Homo sapiens: one gene and its partners. The protein of the gene in region 3 interacts with the protein of the main gene of each other region in a biochemical or structural test. Each region holds a gene or a part of one and is shown on either strand. Other genes may lie near its edges.

Evidence for each region. The genes of interacting proteins can lie anywhere in the genome.
Region 1: the proteins of SNAP25 (region 3) and STX3 form a complex in vitro, tested with the Homo sapiens proteins (2 studies listed by BioGRID).
Region 2: the proteins of SNAP25 (region 3) and CPLX1 are reported together in a solved structure, tested with the Homo sapiens proteins (2 studies listed by BioGRID, with this or other methods).

Annotation. Positions count from the first base shown.
Region 1 is NC_000011.10:59,798,786-59,806,378, reverse strand, and holds the end of STX3 (syntaxin-3), read right to left. Parts: intron 6,705-7,593; exon of another isoform or gene 5,525-6,704; coding exon of another isoform or gene 5,477-5,524; 3' UTR 3,162-5,476; coding exon of another isoform or gene 3,084-3,161; 3' UTR 501-3,083; downstream 1-500. Other genes in the region: MRPL16 (large ribosomal subunit protein uL16m), read left to right, coding at 1-32. UniProt on the Homo sapiens protein: Potentially involved in docking of synaptic vesicles at presynaptic active zones. Apical receptor involved in membrane fusion of apical vesicles.
Region 2 is NC_000004.12:784,457-789,719, forward strand, and holds the end of CPLX1 (complexin-1), read right to left. Parts: intron 4,902-5,263; exon of another isoform or gene 3,493-4,901; intron 3,411-3,492; exon of another isoform or gene 3,318-3,410; intron 2,243-3,317; coding exon 2,045-2,242; 3' UTR 501-2,044; downstream 1-500. UniProt on the Homo sapiens protein: Positively regulates a late step in exocytosis of various cytoplasmic vesicles, such as synaptic vesicles and other secretory vesicles.
Region 3 is NC_000020.11:10,288,664-10,298,844, reverse strand, and holds part of SNAP25 (synaptosomal-associated protein 25), read right to left. Parts: intron 5,964-10,181; coding exon of another isoform or gene 5,846-5,963; intron 5,685-5,845; coding exon 5,567-5,684; intron 1,921-5,566; coding exon 1,795-1,920; coding exon of another isoform or gene 1,791-1,794; intron 1-1,790.

The DNA.
Region 1 (7,593 bases), on a different chromosome or scaffold from region 3:
GGGGCAAGTTCTACATGCCCAAACGTGTGTAGTGAGTGTAGGAGATAACTGTATATAGGCTACTGAAAGAAGGATTCTGCATTTCTATTCCCCTCAGCCTACCCACTGAAGTCTTTGGGTAGCTCTTAAGCCATAACTAAGGAGCAGCATTTGAGTAGATTTCTGAAAAACAATGTTATTTGTTGATTTAAAAAGAAAACTGTATTTTTATTAAATAAAATTTAAACATCACTTCAGGATATAACTTCTCATTGGTCATTCTTAATCCCTTAAAAGATTAAGAAATAGGCCTCAATGACTAAAGAGTTCTTGGTCCTCCTGGGGTGTAAGATGAACATGAAGGCTGAAACAAATGTTTGCATTCCCCCATCTATGATGCGAGTCTCACTTAAATGTTTATACTGCCTTTTATACGTACACACTTCAGGAGCCAGTTTCTGTGATATTTTACTAGGTTAAAAACACATTTTTAGAGTAAGAAAAAAACAACAGTACATAGGTCAATTGATTCAATATTTATTGATGCCCAGCTACCCATCTTCTCACAATCTTGGAAGGGGTATGTTGGACAATAGGCAAGGAACATACCCTTTGCCTTTTAGCAAAAGGAACCGATGACAAAAGTTAGAACTGCGTGGCCTTTTCTGGGTCTGAAATTCTCCAAGAGGGAGAGTGTTTGGCTCTATGTTTGTGCCCCTGCAGAATCTAGTACAGTGCTATGTGCCATGCACCACTTAAATTCTTACTGCTAGTGAATGAGGGCCCCCTAGGACTCAGATCCTCATAGCTCCAGCTCCGTTTGCCCAGATTAATGTTTTCCAGACCCAACCAGCTGCAGTCTTCTATCCCCTATTAAAACTAAAGGAAGCACAAATTAATAGAAATATCAAACCATTGGCTTTTGAAGGTGGGTAGAAAACAGCACTGACCAAAATATTTTTAATCCCACTTTCTTAAAAAATAAGGTATCAAACAAAGAATAATTTACTTTCAAAAGTACAAACTTAGCAGTTGTGTGCTCCTCACAGTTGTATAGTGTGATTTTTTCATCAATTTTAGTTACATAATCACTAAATAATCTGCACTAGAACTCACATTCACATAGCTGGTTTTAAAGCTGAACACAACTGAACCTTGAATGGAATTGGGGACAGTATTAAGTATTAAGAACAGTTTTTTTTTTTTGTTTTTTTTTTTTTTTTAGATGGAATTTAGCTCTTGTTGCCCAGGCTGGAGTGCAGTGGCGCGATCTCGGCTCACTGCAACTTCCGCCTCTTGCATTCAAGCAATTCTCCTGCCTCAGCCTCCCAAGTAGCTGGGAATACAGGTGCAAGCCACCATGCCTGGCTAATTTTTGTATTTTTTGTAGAGAGGGGGTTTCACTATGTTGGTCAGTCTGGTGATCCACCTGCCTTGGCCTCCCAAAGTGCTGTGATTACAGGCATGAGCCACCGTGCCCGGCCTATAACAGTTTCTTATACATACGTTACTGGCCAGCAGTTTCAGCTAGCAACACAAATCAGGTGAGAGGTGAAGTGAGTGATAACCTCATTTCACCTTTCTCACTTGACACCTTTATCTGTTCTTTGTTATGGTTCACAGAGTGTTCTACTGATGTGTGAGTTCAGTCATGCTATAAACCTATTTTATTTTGTGGGCCTGTATTTCGTTATTGAACCACAGTCCTGGAGCCAGCCATCTTCTCCACAGATTAAGAGGCTGTTGCTAGAACTCCACCATCACCACCCATAGAAAAAGCACTTTAAATTTTCATGTTGTGGTAATGGGGTTTGAAAGGTTGGTAGCATTTTTGCATAAGCAGATCAGCCCATTCCCAAGCGGCTTTACACAGCCTCTGACAGTAACAAACCACGTTCTCATTGGTACCTTAAAGAGTTTAGGAGTCAAACCCAAGGATTTGTCCATGACTGAAATAAGAGCTTAATTATAAGTAATTAAGTCAGCAGATATTTGAGTACCTGTAAGCAGCAGGCGCTGTGCTAAAAAGTGGGGACACAGCAGTGAGCAAGATAGGCATGTGCTTATCCTTAGATAAACTTCACTTTTAAGACTACTACTGGAGCCTGAAAGAGGAAACAGATGTAGGGTGGTCAAAGGTGTGACCTAGAGGAGCCTGAAGAGCAGAAGTGCCCTGACTTGACCAACTCACAGCAGTTCAAGTAAGATCCTGTTGAGTTAGGTGTGCTATGATATCTGCCCCTTCACAGCCATACTGCACATGCAGGCTGTGTCACTTCCTAAAGAGGCGCCCACTCTGCTTGCTTCTCTACCCTGCAGTCCTCCTTTAAACCATCTGCCTAATCAGCTATGTATCTGTACTCCCTGTCCCTGTCCTCCGCCCAATTCTGTATACGTTTATTCTTTGCATAATTCTTAATAAGTAGTTGATTGGTGCCCTGTTTCTTAAGAAGTTTCATAATGGAAAGAGGAGAAGCTGATGAGGAGTCTGCGTGGAGAAGTGATGGTACCACAGAAGTGGAAGGAGGATTAGAAATGCCAGTCGATCAATCTGTGAGGGCTGTGGGAGATAACAGAAAAATGGAGGAAAAAAATCATAGATTATATAGCATGGTGTTCGTGGCTGGGATCACCAAATCCCTCTTACCCGGGGTAAAGGACTACATACAAGGCTGTGTTAACTTTCATTAACCTTGAAAGGGAAGAAATTTAATTTGAATTTACTGTGTGGCCGGCCCTCTTCCAAAAAGTTCAAGATGCACCTAATGCAAGAACTAATTCTTGTTCTTTTTGTCACTTCCAGATACCAAGGCTCAAACTGTTTAGCAGGAATCACTATCCTTCACCTGTACAAAGCATTCTGCCACACCAGGTTATAGGACAGATTGCCACCTTCTGTCTCCCCCCTCCTCCCACAGACTACCTACTAACAGTTCATTCTTCACTCACTTTTCTGTCTCTGAAACATCCCTTTCTTTAGTTTTCTCTAACCATTATTAGCACCTAATCCCACCCAGATTAAGGCACCTAGAGTGCCCCCAAGACACAAAGGTTTCAAGTCAGTGAAAGAAGGTCTGACCCTCCCCACAGATGGCTCACCTTTTTCAGGCAAATATGCTCCCAATGGTGGAAGCTAAGATGATCGCAAGGATAATACAGCAGATCATGATCATGATCTTCTTCTGCTCATCCAGACAAGGAAAGAAAGAATACATGAGAAACATCATCGCAAAAAGTATTCTGCAGGGAGATAAGTGCATGTGGACATGGAAGAGGGTGTGAAGGAAGAGAGCAACAGAAGGAAAAAGGAGATGGATCTGGCTTCTAGGACCCAGAATGCCAACAGAAATGTTATTTTTGGTGAGACATTCAAGTTAGATTAAAAGGATGTTTGGTATGGTCATTCCACCTTCTAGATAACATCGTGACAGATCTCCCCCATTTCCTCCTAAAGCCAGATACTCCCAAGGACTGAACCAAATTCTTTTGGGGGGAACACCTCAAATCTGAAACACAAACATAGTTACACTGCATTCTGTGGGAGTTAAACCATGTTCAAAAATTGCACTTTTGAACCATCTGATCCAGCACATGGCTTAAAAAGGTGTGAACTGCATTCTAAAACCTGAATAAAAATCACCACATGGTGGCACCAGATCATTGTGTTTCTGCATCGAGACAGAGCCAGAACCGTTTCACAATCAATACAAAGTCATTTTTATTTTTAAATTAGCAATAAAATAATCAAGTTTACATCTAAAAAATACAAACAACAACAAAAACCTTCACATGTTGTATTCCAAACTGTAAGCCCCAGGCCTCAATGTCAGAGGAGAGCAAAGGCCTTTAGTTATTTTGTCTCTTGTTGCTGGAGCCCATCCACTGTCTGACATCATAGCCATGGGCAAGAGGATATTGCCTTGGCTCTGTCTGAGTGCTGGATTGTGACCGGCCATAAGTAGCCTTTGCAAAGGAAGCTAATGGACAGTGCCTGAATTAAGGGTGCTTACCCTATCCTAGAAAGCGTTAAAGTCAAAGCGGAAAATATACATGGTACCCAAAATCAAGGAGACTGCCAGAGACCAGCAGGGGATCTAAGGGATTTACCACTGGGTTAGCACAGACACTACACTTGAAGATTTCCTAGCGGCTGCTGCTGCTGTTTCCATGATAAGAATTCAGTGAGACAAAGAACCTGCCAAGCTCATTAACCGAGTAGCAGGAAGAGCTACTGTGTAGCCTCTGGTGTTCCCCAACTGACTCAGCCCTGCAGATGGGACATCCTGTAGGTCATGTGAATATCAAGTTACTGAGGGATGTTCTCAGGACAAGCCTAGCATAGGCACCAGGTGGGAAAGGGTGTCAAAAAATTATACCTTCTGTCTGCTAAGCAGAAAAACTTAATTGGGATCAATTTAGCTCACTCCAGAGTTCTCATTTTATTCTCCCAGTATTCATCCAGAAAACAAGTTTCTTGATGATATGGGAAGATCACATTTCCACAGTGATTCATTTGCAGGTAAGCAAATGTCCTTTACCCAATTTTTATCCTAGCTCAAAGTTGGCTTTTTTTTTTTGAGGTCATAATAGCTTCCATTTTTATTTCCTACTTCCTGAGACACACACACTTATGTGTACATACATTTCATACACAATTAGAATACATCTGGAACACATGAGTGAATACACCAGTGTCATGAAATATTTCCAGAGCTTAGGATTCTAGCACCTTGTCCCTTGCCCAATTTAAAATCCCTGATTATTTTTGGCCCCAAGACAATAGTCTCACAAAGCATCACTTTCTAACAATGAGCAGCCAGTTTCTAAGACTCAGACATGGAAACATATTCCATACCGTCAGCCTTTTGCAAAGCATAACCTCAGATGACTGTATCATCCTGGTCCCTCCTTGAGTAAATATGAGAGACTACAACACAGAGAAAAATCAAAGTTGCCCCCCAAGCTGAACAACTAAGAGCTTAATTTAAGGCTGAATTTCAAACAAGTCAGCTCTTTAGACCAAAATGACATCTGCCAGTCCCTCATGTTTTCAGGACATACGGACAACAAACAGGATTGGCATCCTGCCAGGTAGAAGACTCAGATCCAAGCCTTCTTGTTGCCAAACTTAGAAGAATCATTCTGCTTTGTTAAAGATACTCCCCTAAAAAAATACATTGCAGTTTCTGGGAGAATACTCCATGAGGTAGAAAAATACAGCACCTTGGGAGAGTCTCACAAGAGCTTTCCCAAGTGCAAGGCATAATCTGACACACAACAGGGAGGAAGAAAGCTGGGTGGGTCCACACAGTCCAGGAGAAAAGGTACTTGAGAGCTGGTGGGGCAGGAGGAGGCTCTGGGGAGAACTCAGGGTCGCATCAGGTAGATCACATTCCCCCAGGGCTAGATTGTTAGCTGAGTCAGGTCCAAGGGTGGTTGCAAGGAAACAAAGGAACGGGTCGCACTCGCTCTCAGGAAGGCCATTCAGACTCCATTCTCATCTGAAGACAAGGGTGGCCACACCAGTCTGGAGTGAAATCAGTTTCTAGGAGGCAGGGAAAGGAGGAGCTGATCAGTACACAGGAAGAAGGCAAAGGGCAACAGAAGGAGTCAGCCACAAACCTGGAAGGTGGGGAGGAAAGACCAGAAATCACTATGAAATAGACAAACCCAGGACAGAACTTGGAGTTAAATATCCCACTGTACAAAGAACAAAAAGCCCTACTGTGAGAGGGGAAAAAAATAGAAAAGCCTCTAGGCCTTTTATAAGCCTTCTCACAGGCTGTCCACACCCATGGAAGGACGTGGTGGGAAGGGACAATCCCTAGTGAAAACACCTGCTCTGCAGGTCCCACAGCAACACCGCTCCTGAAGACAGGCTGCAGGAGCTGCTTTCTGGTTCTCGATCTTCATGAACTCCCTGCTGCCTTTCTTTTAGAAAACAGAAGGACACAATGAAAAGCCTATGGAAAAAGTTCAGGGGTCATATTATGGCTGCTCCACCTTATGAGCTATGTAGTCTTGGGCAAGTTCCTTAACTTCATTGCTCTTTCCCCGTCTGTAAAATGAGGATACTATGATCTTAGAGCAAGCAGCTGGCACATTACTAGGAAATATAAACACACTGTCTACCCTCCTGTTCAGAGACCTCTCTCCCTTGGGTGACATGGAGGAAGAGGAGAGTCCAGACCTAGGCAACAATCAGTCTTGACTTTGTTAGGGAACATGGAATACACTACAAAAAAAGCAGCTTAACAACTGCTCAGCAATTTAGCAGGTTAAAGATAGGGTTAGTCAACCAAAAACAACATATTAATTAGTCTGCTCCTCTTTGAGGAGTTACGTCCTGAAAAATGATTCATATACCTTCTGAAGTCCTGGAATTAGGAATAGAAAGGGGCACCACAAATTTGCATATCATCTTTCATCCAAGGATATGGAAAAATAACAACTCTTATATCTTTTTAAAATTTCAACATCTATTTCAATCAGATTGTTCAGAGCCAAACCAAAATTTAAAGTTCACATACAAAAAAGTCAAGGGCTAGACTCCAAGTGCCAGAAAAAAGAGGGGAAAAAAAAAATCAACCAACCACCTGTCTATGAGAGGTTGTTCATCTCACTGTTGCTTATCTTTCAAGATGAAGTTGAATGCTCAATGCTGTAATAAGCTGACTTTTAGATCCCCTGGTCACATGGAAGGAGGAGGAATAAGAAGAGACACACTGAAACAAATATAAAAGGAAGGCACAGCTCTGGGTACTGGCATGGTATTATGTGCCAAGTCTTAAAAATGTTTATACCTGTTATTTCAGTACTCCAACTTATATGAGTTGGTAATAAAGAGAAAATTTAAATGAGAAAAATATTAAATAAGGTTAGTCACACTGTTAGCTACAGCAAAATAACATAAACCTCCAACATTGTGAAAATGTTAAATATTTGAGAGTATGGCCACAATCTCATATTGAAAATTAGATTTACAAAGAGATTTTAATGCTGTGGAATGATGCTTATAATTTTCTAACTGGGTACAAAACTGGATAATATAGTCTGAACTATGTAAAACTATGTCTGAGTATGTGAACGTGCCACAAGGTTATCAGCAATAATATTAAAAGTTCATTAGTTTTATGTTTTCTGTATTTTATAGGTTTTTTTTTAACAATGCATGCTATATTTTATTCAGAAAAATATTTTAAAAGTCACTGGCTGGGCGCAGTGGCTCATGCCTGTAATCCCAGCACTTTGGGAGGCCAAGGCAAGTGGATCGCTTGAGTCCAGGAGTTCAAGACCAGCCTGGGTGACATGGCAAAACTCCATCTCTACAAAAAATATAAAAGTTATCTTGGCGTGTTGGTGTACACCTATAGTCCCAGCTACTCAGAAGGCTGAGGCGGAAGGATCACTTGAGCCTGGGAGGCAGAGGTTGCAGTGAGCTAAGATCGCACCACTGCGCTCCAGCCTGGGCGACAGAGCAACACACAATCTCAACAACAAAAAAAAATTGTTTGTTTTAAAGTCACAAAAGTCTTAATAGTCCCAATAACCAGATTGATATGCTCACTACTATTAAACGTGATTCAGGCCGGGTGCAGTGGCTCACGCCTGTAA
Region 2 (5,263 bases), on a different chromosome or scaffold from region 3:
AGCAACCAGGCAGAGGGGCTGTTCTCTGGGTTGGGGTCAGGAACCTCTTCTGGCCTCAGCCCAGGTTGGCAGACATTTCCCTGCAGGGATCCGGGTCCAGGACTCAGGAGGAGGGACAGTCCCACGGGGGTGCTGGGGGGCAGGAATTCCTGGGTGGGCCGAGGTAAGGGCAGCACAGGGTGACCTGGGGCCCTGGGCCCGGTGGAGCTGAGGAGAGGGACAGGCCTGTGGTCGGGGGTCCTAGGTGGGAGGGAGAGCAGAGGGCAGATGCTTTGCGGGTGGAAGAACCACCCTGGGGGGCGGGAGACCCTGAAGGCGCAGGTTTGTGTTTAGATGGAGGTTGCGCTGGCTGGACGGCCTAGGGAAAATGGGTCTGACTGGATGGAGCTGAGTGAGAATGGTGGGAGGCCCTGCAGCCGCCGTGGAGAGAACATGCGCGGGGGAAAGCCCCGGTCCTCCGGCTGGCGAAATGGACCTCTGGAAGGAATGGCCACACGGTGTGAAATCACTGGTGTTTATTGGCTGTGATTCCATCCGGAGAGAACACACGCAGGGGCCCCGACATGCAGGAGGAGGCGCAGGCGCAGGACAGACGGACAGAGGACACCACGGTCTAAGCTAAGCTCGCGGCCCGGGGCGCCATGCGCTGGGAACGGGGTGCGCAGGTTCTACGAGAGGACGCCCTGTCTGCTCAGAGCTGGCTTTGTAAGGTGTGAAAACAGGAGTTTTTAAAAGACACGACCCGGGAGAAGTCAGTGAGAGGGCACAGGGCGAGCAGGACGGACAGCGACGTCCCCGCGGGCCGCGTCGCTGGGGCGCAGAGGGGCGCGGTGGTCTCTGCCCGGAGGGGCGTCGGTCGTTAGTATTGCAGTCTAACGTTATGGCTTCTCTAAAGCTATGTAAGGTCATGAAGGTCAATGCCAAGCCACGCCCTGGCCCGAAACACGTGGAGACTTGATGCATTTTTGATGTGGACGAAAGGGCCCGGGGGCGAGGCGGCGCCTGTCAAGATAAAACTCATTAAATGCAAAGACCTCATTTACCTGAGATTCAACAAATTGTGATGCAAATTAAACATGAATGGAGGAGAAACAGGGGCTCGGATGCCGCCCCGCAGGGCCACCAGGTGGATTAGGCCACACACGCGCCAGCTGCGCGCAGGGAACCCCGCAGGCCCCACCCGAGGAGCTGCCCACGGAGGAGGTGCTGGGCAGGGGCGCAGGGTCTCCAGCGTCCGGTGCCTCGGGCCTCTGCGGCTCCTGTGGAGGGTGCAGTGTTCAATGGCCGAGGGCAGGGGTCCTCCCCAGGGAGAAGCAGCAGCCGCGTGGGCGGAGAGGCTAGGAGGCCGGGCGGGGGGCGAGGACTTGGGAAGAGCGGGGTGACGGGGGTGGGGGCTGGGCGTCCCCCAAACCTATTGCTTTGTTTCCTTTAGTTTAGAAGTGAACACGGCCGTGGCGTTCGTAAGAAGCAAAACCTTCCAGAGAGGAGAGGAAAGGACGCGGACAGAGACGGATGGACAGGGGCGCGAGGGGGCCAGGCCGGGGGGCGGAGAGCGGCCGCGTGCGGACGCAAATACTCACGGCGGAGCGATCCGAACCCCGGAGTCCGCGTGCAGGAGGGGGACCCAGGCCCCGCCGCCCTCGCCCCGCCCGCAGCCCCCCGTCTGCTATGGCTGTGCTCCTGAGTGCGGGCCCGACAGGCGCCCACCGCCGCGAACGCGCGCACAGGGGTGGTCGCGGGGCTGCCCTTCGGCGGCCCTGGCCTCGGGCGCTGCTGGGTGGGCGGTAAACAGCAAGAGAAAGGGGCGTCCCAGGCGATGGGGCTCCAGCCACCCGCGGGCAGAGGAGCACGGGGCGGACTGGGGGGGTCCTGGGGGCGCGCGCCCCTTGCCGGGTGAGGGAGGCGGCGGGCGCGGGCAGGGCGGGCCTGGGGCTATGGCTTATATCGGCGTGGGGGCTGCGCTCTGCTCGTCCCTCAGGGGCCTCCGCGGAGGATCTGTAGGGGGAGGGGCGGGGGCTCCGCGGGGCCGCTGTCCCGCGCGCGGCTACTTCTTGAGCATGTCCTGCAGCGGCCCGGGCAGGTACTTGATGACGGTGTCCAGGATGCTCTCGTCCTCCTCCTCCACCTCGTCCCCGCAGCCCGGCGGGATGGCCTTCTTGGGCCGCGTCAAGCTCCCCTCGGAGTTGGCCTCCATGGCGGCCTGGGCCTCGGCCTCGCGCTCCTCCTTCTTCTTGATGCCGTACTGCGGGGGAGGCGGGGGTCAGGGCGGGGGTCCCGGCGGCTCCCGGGCGGGCCGCAGCCTCCCTGCGCCAGGGACTGGCCCAGGAACCCCCGAAGGCGTGGGTGCGGCCCCCTACCCCACCAGGCACACAAGGACCCCAGAAGGAGAAGAGACCCCACCCCGGGGGGTCCCTGGAGGAATGGGAAGCCCCCACGGAGAATGGGGGCCAGGAGCTGACATGGGGGGGAGCAGGGAGGGGGAGGCTCCCATCTTCCTTGAGAGGAGAGAGGGCTGTGGCCCCACCTCTGGCTCCAAACCCAGCCCAGCCCCTGGCATCCTGCCTTCCAGGAAGCCTCCGGCCCGGGGCAGGGAGGGGTGGGCAGGATGCTGCGTGGCAGAGGTGGGGAGAAACAGTCAACCCGCAGCTGACCCTCCTGCCCAGTGCCTGGTCCACGACCTGCATTCACACTCCCGGGCCTGGCCAAGGCTGCCTGGATGCGGCCGCGGCCCCAGCAGGGCCACTCCCTGGCAGGCCGCTGCAGCTCCGTGGGCAGCCGGCAGAGGGTCCTGGGCTGCGGTCACTTCCAGGCACTGGGTGTCCTGGAATCCCGCCTAGTCGTGCCCTCAGCCAGTATGCCTGGGCCTCACCGACCCCCTGCCCACCCGCGTTTCTCATCTCCCGTGAGTGCGTCTGCCCTCCGTAGTAGCTGAATATTGTCCCCCTCAAATTCATATTGCCTGGAGCTTCAAAGGTGATCTCATTCGGAAACAGGTCTTTGTTGATCTCATAATGGTAAGGATGGGGACGAGGCCATCCTGGATTTGAGGGGCCTCAAGTCCAGTGAGAGTGTCCTTGTAAGAGACAGAAAGGACAGACACCCGGATGGGGGCGGGCATACGAAAGCGGAGGAGGTCGCGAGTGGTCAAGAAACACCAGGGATTCGGGGCCGCCAGACGCAGGAAGGGGCAGGGAAGGGCCCTCCCCCAGAGCCTCCAGAGGGAGTGTGGGATTTTGTTCTTCTGCCCTCCAGGCCTCTAAGTTTTTGTCAGGCCCCGGGGTTTTGGTTTCTAGATCAATACGCCTCCCCACGCCACACTCCTCCAGCCCTCCCGTGAGCCACCAGCCCAGGAAGCCTGTGGTCATGGTCAGGCCACGGAACTACGGAACAGCCTCCTGCTGCCCAGGAAGGTGGGAACCAGTGGGGTTGGGCTGGCCTGGAAGGATTGGGGGCCTGGTGTTGTACGGAGCTGGACTTCCATCCCCTGAACAGGACCCCCGGGCCAGGTCCAAGGTCCTGGATCTGAGATTACAGGTGCTCTGGAGTAGTGAAGGCGTCAGCAGCTGCGTCCAGGAGAAAACTTAGGAGGGGAGTGGGCACCAGCACTCTACAGGACGGAGGAGCACACCGCGGGATCACCAGCCACAGGGAGGGGCCTTTCTGCCCAGGAGGAGCCCCTCCCCTGCCATCTCCTGCTCCTGTCTCAGCAGCCCCTCCCCATAGAAGCAGTTGGTTCTGCTCCTGGTGCTGGGCACCCCCTGGATCTCCAAGGAGGCCCCTCCTTCCTCCCAAATGGAGGGGGGGCTGCCTGTGTGCTCCCCAACCCCACCGAGGGCAGTCTCGGCACCTCTCCCCTCCCCTAGGGCTGCAGGTGGCTCTGGGTGTGGGGGGCCAGGGCCACCTTCAGTGAGATGGAAAGGAGGGCGCCACGTTCCCAGCCGCCTGTGGCCAGACCACCACCTGGCCACTGAGGAGAGAGGGGCCGTGGGCTCGCCCTAGTCCTCAGCAGCCCCTGCGCACTCTTGACAGAGCCGGGACTCCAGGGGTCTCCTCAGTGAAACGAAGAGCACAGGGTAGGAACGTTCTCCGCACAACAGGGGCGACACCCAGAGGGCCCTGCAGGCCCAGAACAAAGCCCTGACCCTGTGGGGCAGCAAGAGCAGATTGGTTCTCGTCCTAGCCATCCACAGCGGGAAGGGCAGCAGCTCCAGGCACGGAAGTGGAGGGAGCATGTGCTCTTCGTCCTGTGGGGCCAGGGGTGTGCTGGGGAGAGCGATGCCACTGGAAGCTAGGTCCGGCCAGAGAGCCTCCCTCCAGCCAGGGGTGTGGGGGTCTGTGCATGTGGCGGCAACATGTGTATCCAGCCCAGGAGGCTGTGCTGCCCACAGCAAAAGCACTCAGGAACATGTGTGTGCTCAGAGGAGCATGCCTGTAACGGCGGAACATGAGTTGTGTGAGCAAAGGAACCTCCCAGGTCAGGGGAGTGACCCTTGGGGCTTGTGGGACCCTGTCTGCAAACGGTGTGGGATCCTTCCTTCTGGGCCCAGGAAGGAGACCCCAGGCCCTGCCACCAGGTTGTGGGACACTCGGAGCTTGGCCTGAAGTGCCAGTTGCTGCAGTGAGGCTCCAGGTCATTCTGAGGCTGAGGTCACGCCGGACTTGGCCTGAGGGCCAGGGTCACTCTGCCGGGAAAACAGGCTCCGGGGCTGGGCTGCACACCAGAGCCTGGCTTCCACGTGGTCTGGCTGAGACCCAGTTCTGAGGCGTCTGCTCCAGAGACAAACGCCCAGGCACACCCAGCCCCAGGCCCACCGTGATGCTGGGCAGCAGCTCTCCAGGAAGTAACACCTGAGGATGGGAGTGGCTGCTGGGGGCGCCCAGGAGGCCCTGACACGTCTGAGGTGAGACCCTGAACCCTGAAAACACGGTATTCGTGAGAAAAAAGGGCAGTGGGTGCTAATCAATGCTGAGAACCAACAATAGGAATGATAGGACCAAACAGCCAGCATTCAGCAACCAGGTGGACACCTCCTAGCCGCTGTGGGAGCTGCGGGGGGTAGGGGGATGCAATGTATTGAGGGAGCCTAGTGGGCCCTCAGAAGGCCCGTGCAGGAAGGCCCAGGTGTGGGCTGCCCAACATGGGTGGCTGGAAGCTTATGCAGGACAAGGGCGGGTCAGTGCGCGGAGCACAGCGGGGCAGTCTCCCTCCTGCTCCCTGGGCCCGGGCCTGTCCAGATGGCTGCCTGACAGGAGGTGCAGGCGC
Region 3 (10,181 bases):
TTTCTAAGACTCAAATTAAGAATACAATAAAAAGCTTATTGTGCTAAGTCAGAGTCTCTGTGCTCATCTCTTTTCACACTTGGGATTGACACCAATGGGAAGAGTAATGATAATTACAGTTTGCCCCTTAACCCTGCTTGCTCCCAGGAACTCCAAGGAGAGCTACTTGTTCAAGATGATTTTTATTTACTCATATGTTAATAACATGGGTTTTTTAGTGGCATGGTGCATAGGTGATTTCAGAGTCAAAAACTGTGAAACTGTGACAAAAGAGTATTGTTTCAGGTTGAGTGGAATGGGAATGGGAGGAAGGAGCTGGCTCACAAAACACATTACATTTTTTCACAGTCCAACTTGAAAGTTAAGGAGGTACTTATTTCAGAATTTCCCTAGTATATATGGTATTGAGCTAAAAAATATTCAGAAGGGTTAAAATCCTTCCCCCATGGTAACTCCCAATGCAGACTGGCTCATTATGGTTTCAAAAGCAGCCCAGGGCAGAGAAAATTAAAAAACTAAAGGAGAACTTTCTGGCTTTTTCCTGTAGGGAAGAAGTTTATTTAAATGATCATCAATAGCTAAGAGATACTTCTAGTTCAATGGTGCTTGGCCCTGAGTGCATATCAGAATCACCTGAGGAGCTTTAATGGGCCACAGGTGCTTGTGTCTCACTTCAAGAGATTCTGGTTCAATTGGTGTGGATTGGGCCCAAACACTGGTAGTAAAAGAAAAAAAAGTCTCCCCTGGTGATTCTAATGTACAGCCAGGCTTGAGAACCCTTGGGCTACTTTCCCTGGGAGCAAAGGGAGAGCTGAGTTCTGAATTGGCTGATGTGTGTAACTTGAGTTTTTTTTTTTTTTAAAGGAAATGCCCCTGAGTCATAATTTGAACTTTTAAAAATAGATATTTAAATTGGCTTTTGATTCTAGGTTTCAAAATAAATCATTAATAAGAAGCTCATTATTCTCTATTTTCACTCCAAATCCGTTCTTGGACCTTCTTTGCTCTGTGCTCTCAGGAGCTGACCTCATGACTATATCACCCAGCTCCTCTTACCCTCTGGCTTTCAGTAGGCTTTGGCTAATGGCCAATGAAACTGCAGGGCAAGAGGAGTGAGGGGCTACAGCATTTATTTCCCTCTTTCACTCCCTGTTAGCTTTGGTAGTGGCTGTATTTCTCTACTGATAGTTCCTTGCCCACAGTCGTAACTATTGCTGGGTTCTGATAATCATTCCTTCTCCTGTCCCCCAGGACTATGGTGGTAACAACTTCCTGCTATTGCTAGCTCAGAAGTGCTTCACCATTCCTTGTTATTAGTCCTGCCCACCCCTCTGTAAGTAGTCTCTTTTATAAGCTCTATTCAATTAAACTCATGGAATGTGATGCCTGTCTACTGCCACATTGAGTCTGGATGTGGTCATGTGACTTGCTTTGTCTAATGAAACCGGCAAATACAAGGTAAGCAAGCAAAGGTTTGGTAAGTGCACTGAGGCTTGCCCCCTTGGAATACTGCTACCACCATGTAAGGAACCTGGGCTCTCTTGCTGAAGAGGCCACATGGAGAAGAACAGACATGCCCCACCAACAGCCCCAGCCAACCACCAGACAAGTGAATGGGGCCATCTTGGATCACCCCACCCAGGCAAGGTCCAGGAAAGGCTTAGAAAAGAACACTTAGCAGGTATGTAGATTAATGAGCAATAAAATGGTTGTTTTTTAGAAAACCACTCAGTTTTGGAGTTGTTTGTACTTGACAATAGAGAACTGCTACAGTGTATGCTGCATGAGGCTCACCTGCGGATGAAGCCGCCACTGATGGCCATCTGCTCCCGTTCGTCCACTACACGAGCAGGCTGGCTGGCCACCACTCCGTCCTGATTATTGCCCCAGGCTTTTTTGTAAGCATCACTTGATTTAAGCCTATGCAAAAGAGAGGGTGAGTGACAAGGCACAGGGGTGGAGGAGCAAGCTCTCAACAATTGTCACTTCTTCAAGCGAAGAATCGAACCAAGCGAATGAGTTTTAAGTCGAGGCATTAGATAATACCGATATATCATAATCCAGACCCAAACAGTTGGCCACCACCATGCCTCAGCTACTCAACATTTCACTTCCAATCGAATCCATTGCAATGGACTGCAATCTTTGCCCACAAGGTTGTTCTTGTTTTGGTTTGTTTTGTGGTTTAGTTTGGATTTTGGACAAGGATTAAGGTAGCTGGAGGACATTTAATTCTATTTTAGTGATGTGATTATATTTGGAGACATAAAACAGAGAAAAACATACTGGCAGACAGACACAAAACAAGACTGCCAAGTAGAGTGTGCACATCACACCACAGCAACACACTGTCATCAAGAAAACATCCTCAACCAAGTTTTTACACACCATCATGCAAAGATCCCTGTGGAATATTTTTTTTTCCCAACACGTGTGGAACTAACATTTCCAAAGCTCCATGAAGGACATAAAGGATTGGTGGTTGGCCAAGAGTGATGGTCTTTGCATTGCCTCTAGAGTGATTTGAATTAGATAATATATCGGTACTTCCAAACAGTCACCATACATCCAGAGTTGATGTACAAACCTTTGTCCACAGAGACAAAAAGTAAAAGAAGCATAGTGAAATGAATGCAGGAAAAGAGAAGAGAGAACAAGCCATCTAGCACCAAAAAGGGAAACCCCTCTACGTCTTCTTCATGCACCAGCTACAGGCATGAGTAGAAAGTGAAGCATTCTCATTTAAGCCAAACTACTCCAGAAGTTGACCATTCTCGAAAAAGGCACTAGCAGGACAGTAATAGCCTTCATGAGGATTTGAAACGCAGGTTCAGTAGCTTCTTTGTTGGGCTGAGGGGCAGGGCAGAGAGTGCTTACAAACTCCTAGTTTAAACTATCCTGGGGTTGTAATGGAGGAGAGTGGTTTAATGCTGGTATGGTCTCCATGGGCTGTATTTCACTGAGCTGCCTTGGAGAAAAGACTTAAAATCCAGGCATACCTATTGTGCCCAATAGAAACATGTGCAGCATATTTTGGTGAGTGTTGTAATTAAAGGCAATCAAAGATGTTTTTAGGTTCTTTACATAGTAGAAACCATATGCTTTTTAGTCCAAAAACAAGAGACATTCTTTGGTCCCATTTTCACATTTTTTTTTGTAAGACACCAGAATTTAACATTTTATCTTCTTCTTTCGCCAGAGGACCACAGCCATCTATTAAAACTGGCTCTAATACTTGCAGACTGGGGGCCAAGCAACCCTAGAGACAAACTGGAAAATTGTACCAATGGAATTTCAGCAACTCCCACAATCAAGTCTATAATGCCGCAGGCCTTAGTGCAGTCAAAATTAATTGCACCAAAGGGCCATGGACCCATTCAATGAAACGAGATCCCCAAACTAAATTTAATAGGGCTTAGAGTCTGGCTTTTTTAATTTTTATTTTTCCAACTCCCCATCTCCTCCCTCCTCAGATTAAAAGAAGTTATATGGACTTTGTGATGTTTTCTGCTATGTCAAATGTCTGCTATACCATCTTTGGCAAAGTCAAAGGAGTGGGAAGTATGCGTTTCTGAAAGAAGGCAAACCACTGCACCCACAATGCTGCACATAGACTCACATCACTGCCGTACATCTACCATCGTCCCTTGAAACATGCCGAGACAGGGCGAAGCCCTCAGAGAGTCCAGGGCACCACCAGCCACTGCGTTGTGACACATGGTTTTTAAAGCATTATTTACACACAATAGGGAACACCTCAGTCAAGCTTTGAAGCTTAGTTTAGGGTCTCTTGTGCATTAAGGAAATTAGTGACCACTCAAAAGTGGAATTCGTAGGAGCCATCATTTCATTAGAACATCAGAATCCATCCCAGGGGACCCTGCCTTCACCCTTTCTTCACACACAGTTGATGAAGGGGGGAAAATGTATCTGTTGGAATTTATCATGAAATGGATGGAAATCTCACCTGGGGGCAAGTTGCCACTGAAAGGAATATACAGTCAAATCTTGACTAACTGGAATGCTTGGTAATGAGGCTTTTTTTTTTTTTTTCTGATGAATTATATGACTTTCTTAATGAACAGTGGGGCCATGGAGGAAAGTTTTGTTTCATGGATGATGAGTGAATATCTTTGCTAGACTCCTGAGCCACTTTCCTGCCTGAAAGTCTTAAGGTAGAAGACCTGATTGAATCTTTCCTTGGTTATCATTTATACTGATTGCTTGATGGCCTTTTCTGTGAAGATCAACTCTTATTGTTTGGTCCTCATAGATGTGGAAGTTGCAGGAGGATGGAGACTAAGTGAGACAATGCAAACTACCCTGGAAGAAAAACCATTTTACATTTCTGATGTGATTTTTTTTCTTTGTTTCTTTTTTGCTAAAAATGGAAGGGAGCAAGAGCATGCAGCTGAGGTTTCCAGTTAGCTAGATTCCAGTTAATCAGGCTTTACTGTAGATCACTCTTTAAAAAGCAGAATTTTTTAATTTTTTTGCAATATGAGCCCCTCCCCCTCCTAAACAGGAAGTGGGATATTTTAAATCAGCCTCAAAGTTTAAAGGATGTGAATGGTCATATAATCTGCTAAAAATGACGTCAATTTCTATTCTAAAAGCTAGGATCAGGAGAGCTTTTAGGAAAAAGTCTTCTTTTAGAAGGGGGAAGTGGGAGGGGTGAGGGAGATTGGATAAGGAGTTTAATTTTCCAAATGCATGTTGGGCAATCCACTCATGCATTTCTTTTTCCACCACTAGTCAAATGAGACAATCTTCCAGAACCCTCAGTTTTAGGTTCCTTCCATTGCAAACCTTTATAACCACATGTCACATTTCTGCTACATTCCAAAAAAGCGTTGCAGAACCTTGAGAACAGTTGAATGTTTTGTGATGTTGTGCATGCAAAATCTACACATTTCAACATTTCAGCCAGTGTACGGGTAGATCTTCCAAGGAGAAAAATTTGGGAGGGATGGGTCCAATTTGAGTAAGGCTTGAGCACTTCTTGCTGAAGAGCTCATTGCCTCTGTGTTGGGTGCAGTGGCAGCATCTATTGACAAAATTTGGCAACTGGTGGGCAGTAGAAAGGGAGAATCTCTGTCATATTCTCTAATTTATAGAATCCTTCCCTGGGCCAAATTACCTGTCTCTTTTATTTTGGAAAAAATCAAACCTTCGCATATGTGTTTCTCATCTTCCAAACTTACCCGCAGCCTTTTCTAAATCTGTAATTTTGACTCTTGGGGTTGGGGAAAAGGAAGTTCCCTGGGTGCCTCTTTCTTGAGGCTAGCCTCTGTCTCAAGGTACACTTTCTGGAAAATGTTGAAACGTTCATCAATAAAAGTTGCTGACAGTGAAGCTTTCACTGTAGTATGCCTGATTTTTAATGCATCAACAGTAACTCCTGCTAATATCATCTATGCTATGAGATGAATGCATTGGAGACGGTATTGATCTGTTCTGCATGCCACATGCTCATCCTGCCTATGAGCTTGGCAGGAATGAGCTTGTCAAGGCTTGGAGATGGGCCTTGGGAAATCAAAGCTTCAGGCAGGCAGGCAGCACCTACTTGTTACAGGGACACACACAAAGCCCGCAGAATTTTCCTAGGTCCGTCAAATTCTTTTCTGCTTCTTTCATGTCCTTATTGATTTGGTCCATCCCTTCCTCAATGCGTTCCAGTTGTTCTGATTAAACACAAGTATTTTATCCCCACAGAATGAAGCAGATGGAAAAGGACAAAGAAAAAAAGACAAAACTTCAGACATTCACTTTGACATTAAAAAAGAAAAAAAAAAAAAGAAAGAAAACTGGACGCCACAGATTAGAGCTGGTACCCAGTACCTACTTGTTACAAGGACATATGAAAAGGCCACAGCATTTCCCTAAATCTTTTAAATTTTTCTCAGCCTCCTTCATGTCTTGGTTGATATGGTTCATGCCTTCTTCGACACGATCGAGTTGTTCTGGTTAGGACAAAGGGATGACAGTGTGGAATGAATTTTTTGGGGGTCTCCAACAGAACATGAGAAATGACTATGTGAAACAGAATTTGAAAGAGAGATATTACAATGCATTGTCCAAGAGGATGCATTGTTGAAGACTGCTACCGCTGCCCTACACAGGTATGGGTGGAAAGAAACAAACCAAACGATGCTCAAAATACTTTGTAATTCAACATGATGGGATGGGGTGGAAGGCCTGTTTGATTCTGAGTGTCCAGGAAAACAGCACAGCATATTCGCTTACTCAGGCACCAGTGAAATCCAGGAGAAAAAAAAACAGGGTGTTAGTTTATGTTTTAGGCATTCCAGTTTAACGCTACTAAGGAAAGGATCTGCTTCAACTTTAAAATATCTCCATCTTTTGGTTTTTAAGCATCCTCAACCAGATAAGGGTAGAAAATAGAATCCATTTTCTTCTTTGGAGACAACAGCAGCAGCAGCAATCATAAGCAATGGGTATGGATGTCTTTTCTTCCCCTAGCAGTGGCAGTCTAGCCAGAGGTAGCCATGGTCTGCACTTGATTGTGCATATGTAATTCGTAAAAGCTGTTTTTTAAAAAAAGAGTAACATCCACACAGCAACATTGTAAGTCCTGGAACATTGCAATTCCTCTATCATCCTATGACTTAATTGCTATGAATGTTTTGGAAGGCATTTCACTTCTCTGCCCCCTGATTTCCAAGTCTATAATGGGGGTCATGCTCCAAGCCCAGGCAGAGAGCAGGGAGAATGAATGTCTCTTTGGAAGTAGGATTATGAATTGGAACATAGGACAATATGGTGTCACTGCTGCCAGCATAGCTGACCTTAGTGTATCTAAGTACATAGATCAATAGTCATAAAAATGAATCATACTTCTAGGTTGCCAAGGTTACATACACCAACTTGATTAATTTTTTTGAATTGTATCACCAAATTGAGATAACTACAAGTTCAATGAAAGGATTTTTAAAACAGCTTTAAAAGACCATTAAAGGAAGGCAGCAATGGATGTCTTCGCTGGCTAATTACAAAACCTAATTACATTTCCATTCCTCTTTTCATCTGTATTTTCATGCATGCATGCCTGTGCCTCCTGGAATAAAGGCATGCCTAGAATACAACTGATAAGTACATTTCCAGCCTAAGGGCATACATTATCACTTAAACACAATTTCACATTAAGTTATACAGTGGAAATTGTGCTTCCAAAAAAACTAAGATACATTCACTAGTGACCCAAACTGCCAGACTGTGAATTTGGAAAATAAAAGCCTACTGTGTTTTCTTTCGTGAGGCTAAAGAACAGAATTCAGTTCATGAGGAATCTGCTATTTCTCTTATGCTTTTGAAATGACAGGTGAAAACAAAATTTCATTGTTTATCCAGCATTGAATACCTGGAGGAGATAATAAGGTAGTGCAGGAGAACTTTTGCCGAATAAATACAGGCACAGTGATGGCTTAAAAAAAAAAATCCGCAAATATAGCTGGGTGTGGTGGCTCATGCCTGTGATCCCAGCACTTAGGGAGGCCAAGGCAGGCAGATCACCAGAGGTCCAGAGTTTGAGACCAGCCTGGCTAACATGGTAAAACCATGTTTCTACTAAAAATACAAAAAAAATTTCTGGGCGTGGTGGCATGCGCCTGTAATCCCAGCTACTTGGGAGGCTGAGGCAGGAGAATTGCTTGAACCTGGGAGGTGGAGGTTGCAGTGAGCTGAGATTGCACTATTGCATTCCAGCTTGGGCAACAAGAGCGAAACTCCGTCCCAAAAATAAAAATTACAATTAAAAAAAATTTTTAAAAGGCTATATATATGGCAATCCCCTACATTCAAGAAGATTTTTTTCTTTTCTAAGGATTTCACTCCAGTTTCCTTTTAAGAATGCAATAAATTAGTCTGTAGATCAAGGTAAATATTCAAGTGGAGGGACTGGTGTGGGGAAAGGAACTCATCATCAGATGAAGAACCATTATATATACAGACAATAGGGATGCCAAATCCCAATCAAGTAATTGCTAATGGCCTCTGGGAATGCAGGCTTGAGATGGATTGGAGGAGGCATCTGGACTCAGAAGGAGAGATGCTGCCCCCAGCTAATGACAGCTGAAATAAGCATAGATTATGGCGTGGGGACACATATGCAATTATTTGTCTTTCTTGAGGAGTTTCTCCTAAGTTACAAAGCGAGTTGATAATTTTTTTTTTTTTTGGCCAAAATATTAACTCTCTGACAAGATATTAGGGACCCATCCACTGTGCTTCCAGAGATTAGGAGGTAACATATATATGTGAATTGGTGCACAGGTATTGGACCTATGAATTAGATAATTGATATTAAAAAGGGAAAAACAAACAGGCACGTCTAAATCCATATTTCAGAAAGCTGGGCTCTGCCATCGGTTACCAGCTTAATTTGGCAAAGTTTTGACTAAAAGAGAAAACTCTGAAGCTGAATTTGATTCAGAAAACTATTCAGAAAATAGTTGATTCAGAACACTATTTTATAACTACCAATATCAGTTGAATATATATTTACATAAGAATTCTAAGTCAAACCTTTAATTTAAAAAATATTGTGGAGTCATTTTGTTGCAGAAATTCTAGCAATAATATTAATTTTTAGAGTGTACTGAGTTATGTTTGTGGAGATGTTTGGCATATTGGGACTTCATGGCACTTCAATGATTTCTGTGAAGATGCTTCTCAGGAAATGCTTATAAGCATCTCATTCTGGGATGAACAGCAGCATCTCTGAGGCTGATGCAACGCACCATCCAGTGTTGACTGCTTTTGATCTCCCTAAGCTTGTTTTCTGGCTCATTTCTGTTTATTCTTGGGGGCTGGGAGGAGAATAACATTTTGAGTAGGGAGGGGGTCTTCAGGTAGGTGACACTATATGTTGGGGCCAGAGCTTGGGCTTTCTTTTGCCATGATATTGGATCACTGGTTATTTGTGATAGATCCACCAATGACAGAATCCTCAAGGATCTATATTAATGTTTTCCATTAATATTTTTCCAATGACTGGTGAAAACAAAATTTCTACTAATCTCTCCTAAGTAAGCCAACATGGGGCCCTTAGTATTCTCAATCTAGTAAAAATCAGTAGAAGAATAGTAAGCATTAATACTATTAATCTAGTATGCAGCCTTCATGAGTATATCCAGTTACAAGATGCTGCCTCTATGAATTTCATTTTTCTTAGCATTTATGAACATATAGAAATTTATTTAAATTTAAATAGCCCTATGTGGCTATCATGACTAAGTACAGCCTTAGTCATTCATAACAGATATTGGTGAATGGACTTTAGCTAGAGAGATGGTTTTTCAGATGCCACCTTGTAGTGCCATGAACCTTTTAAGATAGCTGACTCTCCGGACAGGAATTTACTTTGTCTTTCTTCTGTCAGACAGTAGTCAAATATTTCACTGTTTAGTTTGGAGCTGATCCCAGGAGATTTTCCCAAAAGTCACATCTTCAGCATCAAAACAGACATACAACTCAGCAAAGACCAGCAAAAGGAACAAGAGATATGCAGGTAAAAGCCCACATTAGTGCCAGGGTCATTTGGGGACTTCCCTTGGTGACAAATTTTCTAGAGGAATGAAAGTTCCAGGGCTCAGTACGTTTCCAGGTCTGGTTGTCATGCTCAGTGCTCCTTGGTGTCTCCCGATACCTGGGTATAAAGCAAGAATCCCATAGGAAATTTCCTAGTGCAATCATTTAACTGGACAACCTGGAATGGCCTGGCCTGACCCAACAGTGGTTGAGATGGTTCTTTAGAAGAATGGCTGTTTCTTGAGGCTCCCGTGCTGCTGTGAGGTAGAAATAGTCAACACTTTTGGTGCTCACGCATAAACAAAATTAGTAGAGCATAAATGAAGAGAAATTTCAAAGCAGTTACTGATCTAAACAAGTAAAGGCAAAATTAAAATGCACTTATATGGCAGTTAAGATAGCTGTTGACATGCTCATCTGTCAATTAGAAAGGTCCTTCTGTGTCTCTACTGCCTAATTAAAAAAAAAAAAAAGGTCCTAAGTTCCTATTATACTATAAATGAAATGTGTACCATTTAAGACCGGCCAGAAACCACCTACTTTCGGGGGTTTTACAGTTGCGTGTTTCTCATCAGTGTCTATCTACTCACCACACATCTGGTAAAACCCAGTCTATCCTTGTTTAACTGAGG